3 separate regions of the Homo sapiens genome follow, and regions 1 and 3 are each linked to region 2. The links come from fine-mapping of genetic effects on gene expression. A gene starts in region 2. Each other region holds a variant in brackets. All regions are shown on one strand. Distances are between the middles of the regions.

Evidence for each region. PIP is the estimated chance that this variant, and not a neighbour inherited with it, causes the effect.
Region 1: its variant is the best candidate, but not a certain one, in a credible set for the expression of SBF2-AS1 in subcutaneous fat (TwinsUK, PIP 0.89).
Region 3: its variant is the best candidate, but not a certain one, in a credible set for the expression of SBF2-AS1 in whole blood (INTERVAL, PIP 0.58).

The regions. Positions count from the first base shown.
Region 1 is chr11:9,344,046-9,348,262 of GRCh38, forward strand. No RefSeq gene overlaps it. Among named protein-coding and RNA genes, the nearest start is that of TMEM41B, 32 kb to the left of the region's middle. The variant G/GT (reference allele first, on the strand shown) is at 2,372.
Region 2 is chr11:9,756,539-9,760,755 of GRCh38, forward strand. SBF2-AS1 (SBF2 antisense RNA 1) reads left to right here and starts at 1,755. Exons shown (of 3, transcript NR_036485.1): 1 at 1,755-1,965. LINC02709 (long intergenic non-protein coding RNA 2709) reads right to left here and starts at 2,995. Exons shown (of 3, transcript NR_033972.1): 1 at 2,891-2,995; 2 at 1,229-1,305; 3 at 1-360. RefSeq lists an enhancer at 34-93 and silencers at 1,565-1,964, 2,085-2,204.
Region 3 is chr11:9,892,004-9,896,220 of GRCh38, forward strand. SBF2 (SET binding factor 2) reads right to left here. Exons shown (of 40, transcript NM_030962.4): 17 at 3,940-4,008. The region is part of intron 1 of LOC101928008 (a long non-coding RNA gene); the gene reads left to right. Among named protein-coding and RNA genes, the nearest start is that of LINC02709, 130 kb to the left of the region's middle. RefSeq lists enhancers at 1,640-2,140, 2,141-2,641. The variant T/C (reference allele first, on the strand shown) is at 1,751.

The sequences.
Region 1 (4,217 bases), 410 kb before region 2:
GGTAGGATTGAGGTCATAAGAATTGAGACACATGAGTTGGAAGTAAGTGGGTGAGTGTCATCACCTTGCTGATTGTCTGTCAACATCTCTTGAAACCTGCCTTAACAATAGCAGAATCAGCAGCGCATATCCACATCCCTTTGATATCTATTTTCTCTGTGTGCTGCAATGTCTGCTAAATGGATTACCTGGCATTTCTAAACCAGAAGCCGCCTCAGAGTGAGTGTCATGTAGGTCAGAGGCTGCTGCGGCTTAGATTTACTGGGCCTCTTAAGTTGCTGCTGTTGCTGAAGGGATCAGGAAGTAAGGGTGGGGAGGAGGAAGGGGCTTAAGGAGTAAGAGAGGCCACAGCAGAGTAGTTCTGTGCCCCTAAAGACTGTTTTATTAAAGGCCAAGTTATTCCTTGCCTGCATTTATTGTGCAATGATTGGAAGCACCTTAAACTTCACTCCCATTGGTTATGCACAGTTTACTGAACTAGTGTGCTGTAAGACCACAAAAAGTGTGTGCTACTGATTGCAACTGCAGCAACTACAAGGAGAGATGGTCAAGGTCTAGAAAAGCACCCACTGAAATATAATTAGTAATGTGTCAGGTAGTGGTATTATGGATAACTCTATTTTTGGAAATTTTAAAATTAATTCATCTTTTAAATAATGTTAAGAGAAGAGCGGTTAGGGAGGGGAGAATACTGTCCCCTTGAGACCTGAATTTCTAGGGCCTAATATTATGGAATGTATTTATAGATGCTCCGCAACTTATGATGGGGTTATGTACTGATAAACCCATTGTAAATTGAAAATCTAGTAAGTCAAAAGTGCATTTAGGCCGAGGCAGGTGGATCACCTAAGGTCAGGAGTTCAAGACCAGCCTGGCCAACATGGTGAAACCCTGTCTTTACTAAAAAAAAAAAAAAAAAAAAATAGAAAAATTAGCCAGGCATGGTGGCAGGCACGAGTAATCCCAGCTACTCAGGAGGCTGAGGCAGGAGAATTGCTTGAACCCGGGAGGTAGAGGTTGCAGTGAGCCAAGACTGTGCCACTGCACTCCAGCCTGGGCGACAAAAGCAAAACTCCGTCTCAAAAAAAGAAAAAAAGTGCATTTAGGCTGGGCATGGTGGCTCGCGCCTGTAATCCCAGCACTTTGGGAGGCCAAGGCAGGCGGATCACGAGGTCAGGAGATCGAGACCATCCTGGCTAACACGGTGACACCCCGACTCTACTAAAAATACAAAAAAATAAGCCAGGAGTGGTGGCGGGTGCCTGTACTCCCAGCTACTCAGGAGGCTGAGGCAGGAGAATGGTATGAACCTGAGAGGCGGAGCTTGCAGTGAACCGAGATCGTGCCGCTGCACTCCAGCCTGGGCAACAGAGTGAGACTCCTCTGTCTCAAAAAAAAAAAAAAAAAGTGCATTTAGTACACCTAACCTAAACCAAACTTCGGAGCTTAGCCTAGTCTACCTTAAATGTGCTCAGAACACTTACATTAGCCTATAGTTGGGCAAAGTCATCTAACACAAAGCCTACTTTATAATGAAGTCTTAAGTATCTCATGTACTTGATTGAACACTGTTCTGAAAGTGAAAACAGAATGATTGTATGGGTACCTCCTGAAGTCAAAAATCCTAAGTTGAACCATCATAAGTCAGAGACCATCTGTATACCATAATAATTCATCCCAGTCCATGAGTCACCATGGAGCTCATCAGAATACACCTGTAGAACTAGAGAGTCATAAAAGGTCCCTACCTTAAAGACAGTCTAGTCCAATTTTTCCTTTCTATTTTTTTTAAGAAGGAGTCTTGCTCTGTCACCAGGCTGGAGTGCAGTGGCGTGATCTTGGCTCACTGCAACCTCTGCCTCCGGGTTCAAGCGATTCCCCTGCTTCAGCCTCCCGAGTAGCTGGGACTACAGGCAGGTGCCGCCACACTCAGCTAATTTTTTGTATTTTAGTAGAGATGGGGTTTCACCATGTTGGCCAGGATGGTCTCAATCTCCTGACCTCATGATCTCCCCTCTCGGCCTCCCAAAGTGCTGGGATTACAGGCATGAGCCACTGCACCTGGCCATCTCTTTTTTTTTTTTTTTGAGACAGAGTTTCGCTCTTATTGCCCAGGCTGGAGTGCAATAGCACGATCTCAGCTCACCGCAACCTCCGCCTCCCAGGTTCAAGCAAGTCTCTTGCCTCAGCCTCCCGAGTAGCTGGGATTACAGGCATGTGCCACCACGTCCTGCTAATTTTGTATTTTTAGTAGAGACGATGTTTCTCTATGTTGGTCAGGCTGGTCTCGAACTCCCGACCTCAGGTGATCCGCCCACCTCGGCCTCCCAAATTGCTGGAATTACAAGAGTGAGCCACCGTGCCCGGCCCT[G/GT]TTTTTTTTTTTTTTTTTTTTGAGAGACAGGGTCTTGCTCTGATGTCCAGGCTGGAGTACAGTGGCACACTCAAAGCTCATTGTCACTGGGCATGGTGGCTCATGCTTGTAATCCCAGCACTTTGGGAGGCCCAGTCAGGCGGATCGCCTGAGGTCAGGTGTTCGAGACCAGCCTGGCCAACATGGCAAAACCCAGTCTCTTCTAAAAATATAAAGATTAGCTGGGTGTGGTGGCATGAGCCTGAGGCACGAGAATCGCTTGAACCCGGGAGGCAGAGGTTGCAGTGAGCTGAGATCGTGCCACTACACTCCAGCATGGATGGGAACAACAACAAAAAAAAGCTCACCATAACTTCCAACTCCTGGGCACAAGTGATCCTCCCACTTCAGCCTCCTGAGTAGCTGAGACTACAGGGACATACTACCATATCTGGCTAATTAAAATAATTTTTTTTTTTTTGTAGAGATGGATTCTCACTATGTTGCCCAGGCTGGTCTCTAACTCCTGGCCTCAAGTAATCCTCCCCTGGCCTCCCAAAGTGCTGAAATTACAGGCATGAGCCACTGTGTCCAGCCTCAATTCTTCCTTTTATAGAAGAGAAAACAAACCTAGAGGGTTCTAGTAGTTTTTCCATACTAGCACAACTCATTTGTAATAGAGCTAAAAAAAGAATTCAGGCTTCTTATCTTTTGTCCAAAGGAAGGAATGATTTTAGTCTTTCTTACTACTACCTTTCAAACTCACTGCAACCCCCGCTTCCCTAGCCCTTTACCCTATTGTCTTTTCTGTCTTCCAATAAGCCTCTCACCTAGCTCTCAGGTGAGATAACAGATGAGTCTCTCTACCTCACAACTCAAGGCACTCATGTCACACTGTCCCAAGAAATCTTCTCACCACATTCTGCTCTAGTTGCCAGTAGCCACAGAGCGTTTCTTCCACTCAGCACATGTCACCATGAGATGCTAATCTTTCCCACTCACTCCTTGCTTGCCCTTGACTTGAGAGCAAGAAAACCACAGCACTCTTGACAGTTCTCTTCAAAGAAATCTTCACTTTTCAAACTTCCTCTCCTTGATTTTCTTTTCTCAGGCCAAAAGTGGGTAATGGGCTACAGGTTTCAGAACCAATTTGGAGGCTACCCCTTGAGCAAGTCCTGCATAAATGATCTGACATATCTCTTTATATAGGGGTACTTGCCACCTATTGTTCTAAGCTCCAAAACTAAGAAAATAGGAAAATGTAATTTAACATCCCAACTCAACTGCATTTATTCTTTCCCAGTTCTCTTTGTTTCTTAATGCATTCCAGCTGAGGTTTTTAAATTTAATTTTTATTAGGTTATGCGTTCCAGTGAGAGAACACACACCTCCTTTTTTTTTTTTTTTTTTCAGGTGCAAGATTTAATAGAGTGAAAACAGAGCTCCCATGCAAAGGGAGGGAACCCAAAGAGGTTAGCTGTTGCCAGCTCCAATGCCTGGGTTTATATCCCGATCATTGTCCCTCCCGCTGTGCTCTCAGGCAATAGATGATTGGGTATTTCTTTACCTCCCGTTTTTTGCCTAATTAGCATTTTAGTGAACTCTCTTTACTACCTGATTGGTCGGGTGTGAGCTAAGTTGCAAGCCCTGTGTTTAAAGGTGGATGTGGTCACTTTCCCAGCTAGGCTTAAGTATTCTTAGTCAGCCTAGGTAATCCAGCTAGTCCTGTCTTTTAGATCCCCCTCTCAACAGGAAAACCCAAGTGCTGTTGGGGAGGTTGGCCGACAACCGCTGTAACTGCTTCCTGCTGAACTGGGGCGTAGTAGGGGTTGTGAAGTTGAGATTTCCTTGGGAGGGGTGCCTTCAA
Region 2 (4,217 bases):
CAAACAGGCCTGGGCTCTACTGTGGTTTTACCTTACTGTGTCATCTTGGGTGGGTTAGGATACTGTACAGGTGATGTGTCCTCAGGGTGTCACACCTGAGGCACCTGGTGTTTTGTCTTCATGCATGTTCTTTAGAAAGTCACGTGGAGGGGGTTTTCCATCTGGGCTGGGCCAGGCCACTTAATGGGCCTGTCGCTGGTGGGCTGGCCGGTTCTGAGAAGATCTGGCAGGTGACTGCGGTTGGTCAGCCATTCAAGGCTACTACTGGAGAGTCCGGGAAATACCTCAGGTGCTCTCTGCATTTCCACAGGCAAGTCTGTAACTTCTGAGGTGTCCTGCAAAGGCAGGTAGCTGGCAAATCTGTGAATGGATGAGTGCACAGAGGAGGTCCCAGGTGAGGGTGACAGCCCAGCAACACACTTCCCCAGTCACACCTGCTCTTTGGAAGGTTCCAGCAAGGCTGTGGAGAGGACCCAAGGGCCTGTGACTGCCACCTCCCAGTAGACCCCAAGGACCTCCAGCCTCTGCTCTCCCCTCAAGGGTCCTGTCGCTCCCTTGGTGGCCATTAGCTGTGGTGGCCAGAGCTGTTCTCCACTCTACCTCCCAGGGCCTCTATCAGCAGCTGACGGTTCCTGCGGCTTGTAATGTTCCTGCTGATCTGCCTCACTCACTACCCGTCACCGCTGATGAACTTTCCCAAAAGTCAGCCCAGAACTCCTTAAGGGAAGGGGCAGCCTCGTTGTGGTAGTTCCAGCACCCTGTACCAAGCAGGTTCTTAGTAAATGCTGACTGTTGAGTGGCCCCTTTCTGAAATAAATTCCTTGTTCTCAAATATATCCTGGATCTGGTCCCCTTGGGTCCAATCAGCGCTTGAACCAGACAGCAATGACTGACCACCTCTACTCAAGAGTTTCTGGTTTATTTGGAGCCTCTACCCCACCCAACCCTAAGGCTGGGAACCCTTTTGCCTTCCTTTTTTCTTAAAGGAAGTTAATCCCAGCACATGTGAAAGATGGACCATCCATCCCAATGCCTCATGTCCTGGGCTTCATTTCTCCATTTCTCCCAGGGCACCCTGGGAGTCTACATGCAAACAGAGATACTAGAAAGTTAACTTCCGGAAACCCCCTTGATAGGCCAATTCGTCCCCTTTTCTCTCTCTCCATGTGATTTTTTTTTTTCAAAAAATATCTTTTGTAGTTTTTTTTTCCTTATCACCAATACATACCCAATGTGGAAAACTGAGAAAAAGCAGGTTTGTAAAAAGAATAAAATGCTTCGCCATAATCTCACTCTGCAGACAACCTACAATGGCAAAAATCGCAATTAATTTTGCACCAACCTAATACTAGGATTTCAGTGCACAGCCTTCCAGGCCTACATTTAGGTTTGTTTGAAACAGGAACATGCGGTTCAACCGCCAACCTGAGCCCGCGTCCCCTAAGGCCAATACCACCATCCTGACCCTCCTTGGGAGGTCCTGAAATGACCCCAGTTCCAGGGGCAACGAAATGCATACGCTTTCGAGGGAAGGAGGGGAGGAAACGACCCTGTGGCGCAGGTCTGCACGGCCAAGGGGGTTCCCTGAGCTGGTGGAGCGGCGTGGCGTGGCCTAGGAAGTCCCTGGGCGAGGGAGGCGGGGCGCGGCGTGGTGGGGGCGACTGGGTGGTGCAGGCCTGCGCACGCGCGCAGCCGTGGGCGGGACGGGCGGCCTGGGGGCTTCGCCGCCAGGTGGCAGGCGTGCGCCACGCCCGCAGGTTCCAGCCCCGACCCGGGCGCGCGGGGCCGACTAGGGTCGGGTCCAGTGTGCGGTGGTCGCTCCGCTCCGGGCCGCTCCGCTCTGGGCGTCAGGGCGCGGGGAGCTGCCCCGGGGTTCTGTCCACCGGGGAGGAAAGCCACGAGCACTGAGCGCCTCCTGAGAGCCAGCCCTGACGTGAACTCATTTTATCTGCCACGACCCAGAAGGTGGGCGCAATTTTCCTATGTTCCAGGTGTGAAAAGTGAGGCTCAGGGAGCTAGGCAGTTGCCCAAGGGGACACAGCAGTGACGGCTCTGGGACGAAGCCCAGGTGTCCAGACGCGATGGCCTCTTCCCGCGTTCTCGGCGGGTACGGCGCGCCGCCTGCCTGCGGCCCGCGGGGAGGTGGTCGGGTGGCCGCCCCGGCTCCTCCTCGGGCCCCTGAGGATTTCCGGCCGGGACCCCGAGGAGGGCCCTGTGGCCTTGCGGCATCCGTGGTCACGATTCCAGCCCCACACGGCCTCCCGCCAGTCCCTGCGAGTGCCCAAGACGGGGCCGCCCCTCCCGTCTCCTCCCTTCTCTCCCCTCCCCGGCGTCTCCCGCCGAGGGCGCTGCAGGCGGCCTGGTTGGGATGAGGGCGGGCAGGCGGCCCACAAGCAGGGGCCTGTTTCCTGACTCGTTTGACCCTGGCTGTCCCTGCGGAGGCCCCAGCAGACCCAGCAAGGTCATCTAGGGCGAAATTCCAGTCTGAGCCCTGAGCAGTGACTTAAGTTTTCCCGATAAGGCTCAAGAAGGGACACAGATTGTCCTCCCCACACCCCGCACTCTGTCAGCACCTCCACTCTGGTGAAGCCTCTGCTGCAGACAGCCCGGCTCGAGAAGAGACAAAGATAGACTTGGGACAGATAAGGACAGAGACAGCCAGGGAGAGAGGGGCAAGGAGCTCAGAGGTGAAGATGGGGCCGCGCCGATGGGGAGGCAGCGGGTCTGCGGCCGCCGAGATGGGAAGTGGGCCCTGGAGCGGGCTTGCCGAGCCTACGACCGGGGCTGGGATGTTGGAGGAAGACGCGGTCATGAGGGCTGAAAAAGAAGGGGTTTTTGGTATGGTAGAAAAATGGATTGGGCTGGCAGCTCGAAGGCCACAGCCCTGTACCTCTGGGCCTGGTCTCGTGTGTGCACCTGGGACCGGTGGGTGAGGGGTGATGTAGAGTCAATGAGGGACGAGCTCGCTGAGTCTCCAGGAGGCAGGAGTGGAGAGGGCGAGGGAGGGAGGGTAGGACCTGTATACCTACGGTGGAGGGGGCAGGCGGGGGACAGATGCTGCTGGGCCAAGACTACTGAGTCTCTCCTGCCTGCTGGAGGTCCCTAGCTCAGGACTTATTCCATGCACACTCTGATAGAATATTTACGCCCAACACTAACTGTTTGGCTTGGCAAATAAGCAAAGCCATAAAGTCACAGCTGGCCTGTAGGCTCCCAGTCACCATGTGCAGCTGAGTCACAACCACTTCCCCCACCCCCTGGGGAGCAAGCGCCTATGCTCATGCCTGCACTCAGACACATATCCACACAGATACCCACAGATGCCGCGTGCCACTGAGTCATAGCTACCTCCTCAGAGAGCACGTGCCTGCATGTACTTGCACACAGGTCCCCACAGATGCCATATACACCTGAGTGTGAGTCATCATCACCACTGAACCCTGAGGGAGGGCACCCAGAGTGTGTTCTGCCATCCTTGCTTAGAGATACCCATATACACACATATACAGATATGTGCCCACCACACATCCTGTTGTACCTGCTGCATCATACCAGCAGATCAATAAATGTTTGTGGAATGAATGAATGAGTAAACAAATGAATGAACTAACAAGTGAAAACGTGAGTGACAACCACACTGCGTGGATACTCAGTAAAATTGGTTGGGGCAGCCCTGCGGGGTGGGTCCCAAGCTCTGTGTCCAGAAGGAGTTGTCTTGCTCCAAATATATCCTCTGTGGGCGGGCAGGGAGCCAGGGCTGCCTCCCAGACCCTGACTTCACTGGGCCGGAGGCCCAACCTCTGAGGAGTTGAAGAAAATTAACAAAGAAGAGGCCCTGGCTTTCTGTAGCCAAGGCTGAGCTGTGAGATGAGTTGGTGGGGGCATGTGTACTCTGGAAATACCACTTACTCAGAGACCTGAGATGCAGGACAGAGTGCTCTGCTGAAGGGCCCAGAGAGGACTGGTTCTGGATTGGGCTTCTTGGGAACTCTGCCCCAAATGTGCAGAATGTGCAGGAGGCCTGGTTCCACTTGAGATCTGGGGCAAATACAGTGCTTGGGCTGAGCTGGTGATTGCAAAACTGAGGCCCCCTATTAGACAGTTTTCCATCTAGGCCTGCCCTTCTGGCTTGGGCTTGTTCCCAGAGCTGCTTTCCTGTCTCTCCCTTGAATCTTCTTTTCTGAAGCCCCTGTGTCTCTGCCCTAATTCATCATCTG
Region 3 (4,217 bases), 140 kb after region 2:
GGTATATGTGCTATTATGAGAGGATGACCAAGATGTACCACTAAGTGAAAGAATCAAGGTGTGAAAATAGAGTAAATGGTTTGTTTTTGTTAAAAACGATACTTTTAAAAAAAATTATTTTTATTTTTATTTTGAGACATAGTCTTGCTCTGTCACCCAGGCTGGAGTGCAGTGGCGTGATCTCGGCTCACTGCAGCCTCTGCCTCCTGAGTTCAAGTGATTCTCCTTCCCCAGCCTCCTGAGTAGCTGGGACTATAGGCACACTCCACCATGGCTGGCTGATTTTTGTATTTTTAGTAGAGATGGGGTTTCACCATGTTGGCCAGGCTGGTCTCGAACTCCTGGCCTCAAGTGATCCACCACCAAAAAAAAGAAAATTTTTATCTGCATGTGCTGGCAGTAATGCGTGACTCTTCCCTGGCCCCTGACCCTCATTCCCACTCCTTTTCCCCAGGAAGGAAACCAATGGTTCAGAGGAAATGGGGTGAAGGTGGAAAAGGGAACTTTTACTTTGCATTTTGTTCCTTTCTGTACTATCTGGAAAATATATATATATATATAATTTTTTTTTTTTAGACGGAGTTTTGCTCTTGTTGCCCAGGCTGGAGTACAATGGTGCGCTCTCGGTTCATGGCAACCTCCGCCTCCAAGGTTCAAGCAATTCTCCTGCCACAGCCTCTCAAGTAGCTGGGATTACAGGCATACGCCACCACGCCCGGCTAATTTCGTATTTTTAGTAGAGATGGGGATTCTCCATGTTGGTCAGGCTGGTCTTCAACTCCCAACCTCAGGTGATCCGCCCGCCTCGGCCTCCCAAAGTTTTGGGATTACAGGCATGAGCCACCGTACCCGGTATATACATAACTTTTACTTAAGATAATGTCCATCTGGTTGGTGGCATTGTGGACCAGTTTGATTTTTAAAAATTATCTGCAGTATTAGACTATTAATATAAGTTCCTAGGGACCATGTCAATGTTTTATTAATGTTGCTGCCCAGATGTTGCCTGTTATAGTAGCTTTTTATATTGAGATACTCAATAAACTTTTGTTCCACTGAAAAAAATTAATAATGTTATTTAAAGTATTTTAAAAGTAAGTTTAAACAAGACAAGCAGCTGAGTCCATTCTCTGAAGCAATGCTGGCAAGACCCAGGAATTTATACTGGCTGGACAGTATGAGGATGGCTAATTTGCAATTTGTGCCCAGGAATATGTAATTTACATCTACTTCCTGAATTAACAAATCTAATATGCACTAGAAATAATTTTCCAAAGGGTAAAGATTTAGAAAATATCCGAGAATCCGTGTGATCTACCTTACCTAACCCCTCTGTTATCAATGCAGTACTTCTTTCTTCCAAATCTATCCTTCTCTGTCTTGCTTTGTGATACTGGAACTGGCCCTTATAAACATTTCTCCTTTGCCAAAATGCAGAATATTAAGCTTTGCCAGTAAAGGTGCTGAAGGAACACTGCAGTAGAAAGTGTATTCTCTTCCTAGTTCTGGTGTACTTTCTCCTTCTTGCTCCTGTGGTAAGCACCTAATGGTGGTGTGTGGGACCACAGTGGCAGTGCTATCTATAAAGTTTCAGTGGTACCCCAGGTGGTAGCTTCCTATCAAGTTTCACTAGCACCCTAGAAGTTTCACGGCCATCCTAGTGGGGGGCTTCCTAGCAAGTCTTGCCAGCACTCCAGCAGGCAGTTTACTGCTTGCCAGTTCTGGTCTCTTGAAATTCGATGCCATCCAG[T/C]GGCCACAACACCTCTCCAACATGATCTGAATCAGCCTAGATCTGGGAAGGGGCTCTCTTCCAAGTTTGCTTCTTTGTTAGGTAGTATGCCTGAGCCCTAGAGGTAGTAGTTGCTCCCTATATTTTATTCCTGCATTCTTACGAATTCTCTTTACCTCTTAGTAGTTAATCCCCTATTACTACTTAATAACTCCTTATATTAAAATTTCTGGTCAGGCGTGGTGGCTCACCACTGTAATCGCAGCACTTTGTGAGGCCAAAGTGGGCAGACAGCTTGAGTCTAGGAATTTGAGACCAGCCTGGGCAACATGATGAAACTCTGTCTCTACAAAAAAATACAAAAATCAGCCAGGCGTGGTGGCTCACCCCTGTAATTGCAGCACTTTGGGAGGCCAAGGTGGGCAGACAGCTTGAGTCTAGGAATTTTAGACCAGCCTGGGCAACATGGTGAAACTCTGTCTCTACAAAAAAATACAAAAAATCTGCTGGACATGGTGGTTCACACCTGTAATCCCAGCACTTTGGGAGGCCAAGGCAGGCGGATCACAAGGTCAGGAGATCAAGACCATTCTGGCCAACACGGTGAAACCCTGTCTCTACTAAAAACACAAAAATTAGCTGGGTGTGGTGGCACGTGCCTGTAGTCCCACCTACTCGGGAGGCTGAGGCAGGAGAATCACTTGAACCTGGGAGGTGGAGGTTGCAGCGAGCTGAAATCGCGCCACTACACTCTAGCCTGGGCGACAGAGCGAGACCCTGTCACAAAAAAAGAAAAAAAAAATTAGCTGGGTGTGGTGGTGTGTGCCTGTAGTTCCAGCTACTTGGGAGGCTGAGATGGGAGGATCACTTGAGCCCAGGAGGCAGAGGCTGTAGGGAGCTAAGATTGTGCCACTGCACTACAGCCTGGGCAACAGAGTGAAACACTGCCTCAAAAAAATAAAAATAGGCCAGGCGCAGTAGCTCATGCCTGTAATCCCAGCACTTTGGGAGGCCGAGGCAGGTGGATCACCTGAGGTCAGGAGTTTGAGACCAGCCTGACCAACATGGTGAAACCCCATTTCTACTAAAAATACAAAAACTCAGCCAAGTGTGGTGGTACATGCCTATAACCCCAGCCACTTGGGCAACTGAGGCAGGAGAATCACTTGAACATGGGAGGAGGAGGTTGCAATGAGCCGAGATTGAGCCATTGCACTCTAGCCTGGGCAACAAGAGCTAAAACTCTGTCTCAATAAATAAATAAATAAAAATAAAACAAAATTTCTCTGTTCAAATTACTGGTGTGGTTTCTGGCTCCTGACTAGACCTTGACTGATTCATCCCTAAACCAAAATAACCCAAAACAAACTCATCCAACAACAAACCATGCCAACCACAAAAAATCAAATCTAAGCCCACCACTAAAACCTATGTATGATTAATCTGCTAACACAGAGAAACAGTATGGCAGTTACCAAACTTGTTAACTTATTGCTTCCTGAAGCTGACTGTGCATGTAGCTGAATAGTAAGTCAGCTGCTACCACAGATTTACTGTTTATGATTGCATATTTCAGAAGGATGTATTAAATGCATTGTTCTGAGTGTGGGTGGTTATCTAATTCTTTACAAGTCCTTCACGGGAAAAGAAATTTGCTGGTTTTTTCTGCCATAAGAATGAATCTATTTATGAAAAAGCATAGATATAACTGTAGTAAGTGACAGAATTTTAAAAAATCACTGTGAACATTCCAGAAAGTTCTCAGAAGGTTCGCAGAAATTACCAGTAAAGTTAAACTCTAATTTCTGGCTTCAATGTCATTCATTCAATAAATATTTACTGAGTGGCCCTGGGACATAGCAGTAAAGAGGACAGACAATATTCCAGCCTCATGAAATTTACTTTCTGTGATGGGGAAAAAACATGTAAACAAACCAATATGCAACATAAATTCAGGTGTTATGAAGTACTATAAAGAAAATTAAGGAAAAGGATGTAACGGGTGTGGGTGGTATTTTAGGAGATGATTTAGTGTTCTATATTAAATTTCCTACACATAGCATGCAATAAATGTTATAATAAATATAACCGCAGATATATCTTAGGCATGCTACTAAGAGGACAGGATTTTCATGTAGTTCCATAATAAATCAAACTGAATACATTTATGTAAATCATAACAAGCTTATATATGGACCAATGAAACTTACCCTATAGAAAGCACTGGTCAAAGGGAGTAATGCTGCGGCAATGTTGTATTCTTCTAAACTTGAACAATCCTTTAAGCAAAACAAAGACAAAAGAGCATTAGGATATTTACCAGAAATCACAAATACATGCGAACTAACATCTGGGATACACTGTTTACTGTCCTATGGGGTTTTTACCTTTTTATTTTGCAGAGGACCTGACGGAGGGGTTTGTACTCTTATTCCAAATTGCCATTAAGACATAGCTAGGTAAGTTTTGGGGGAAAAAACTGTGTGTG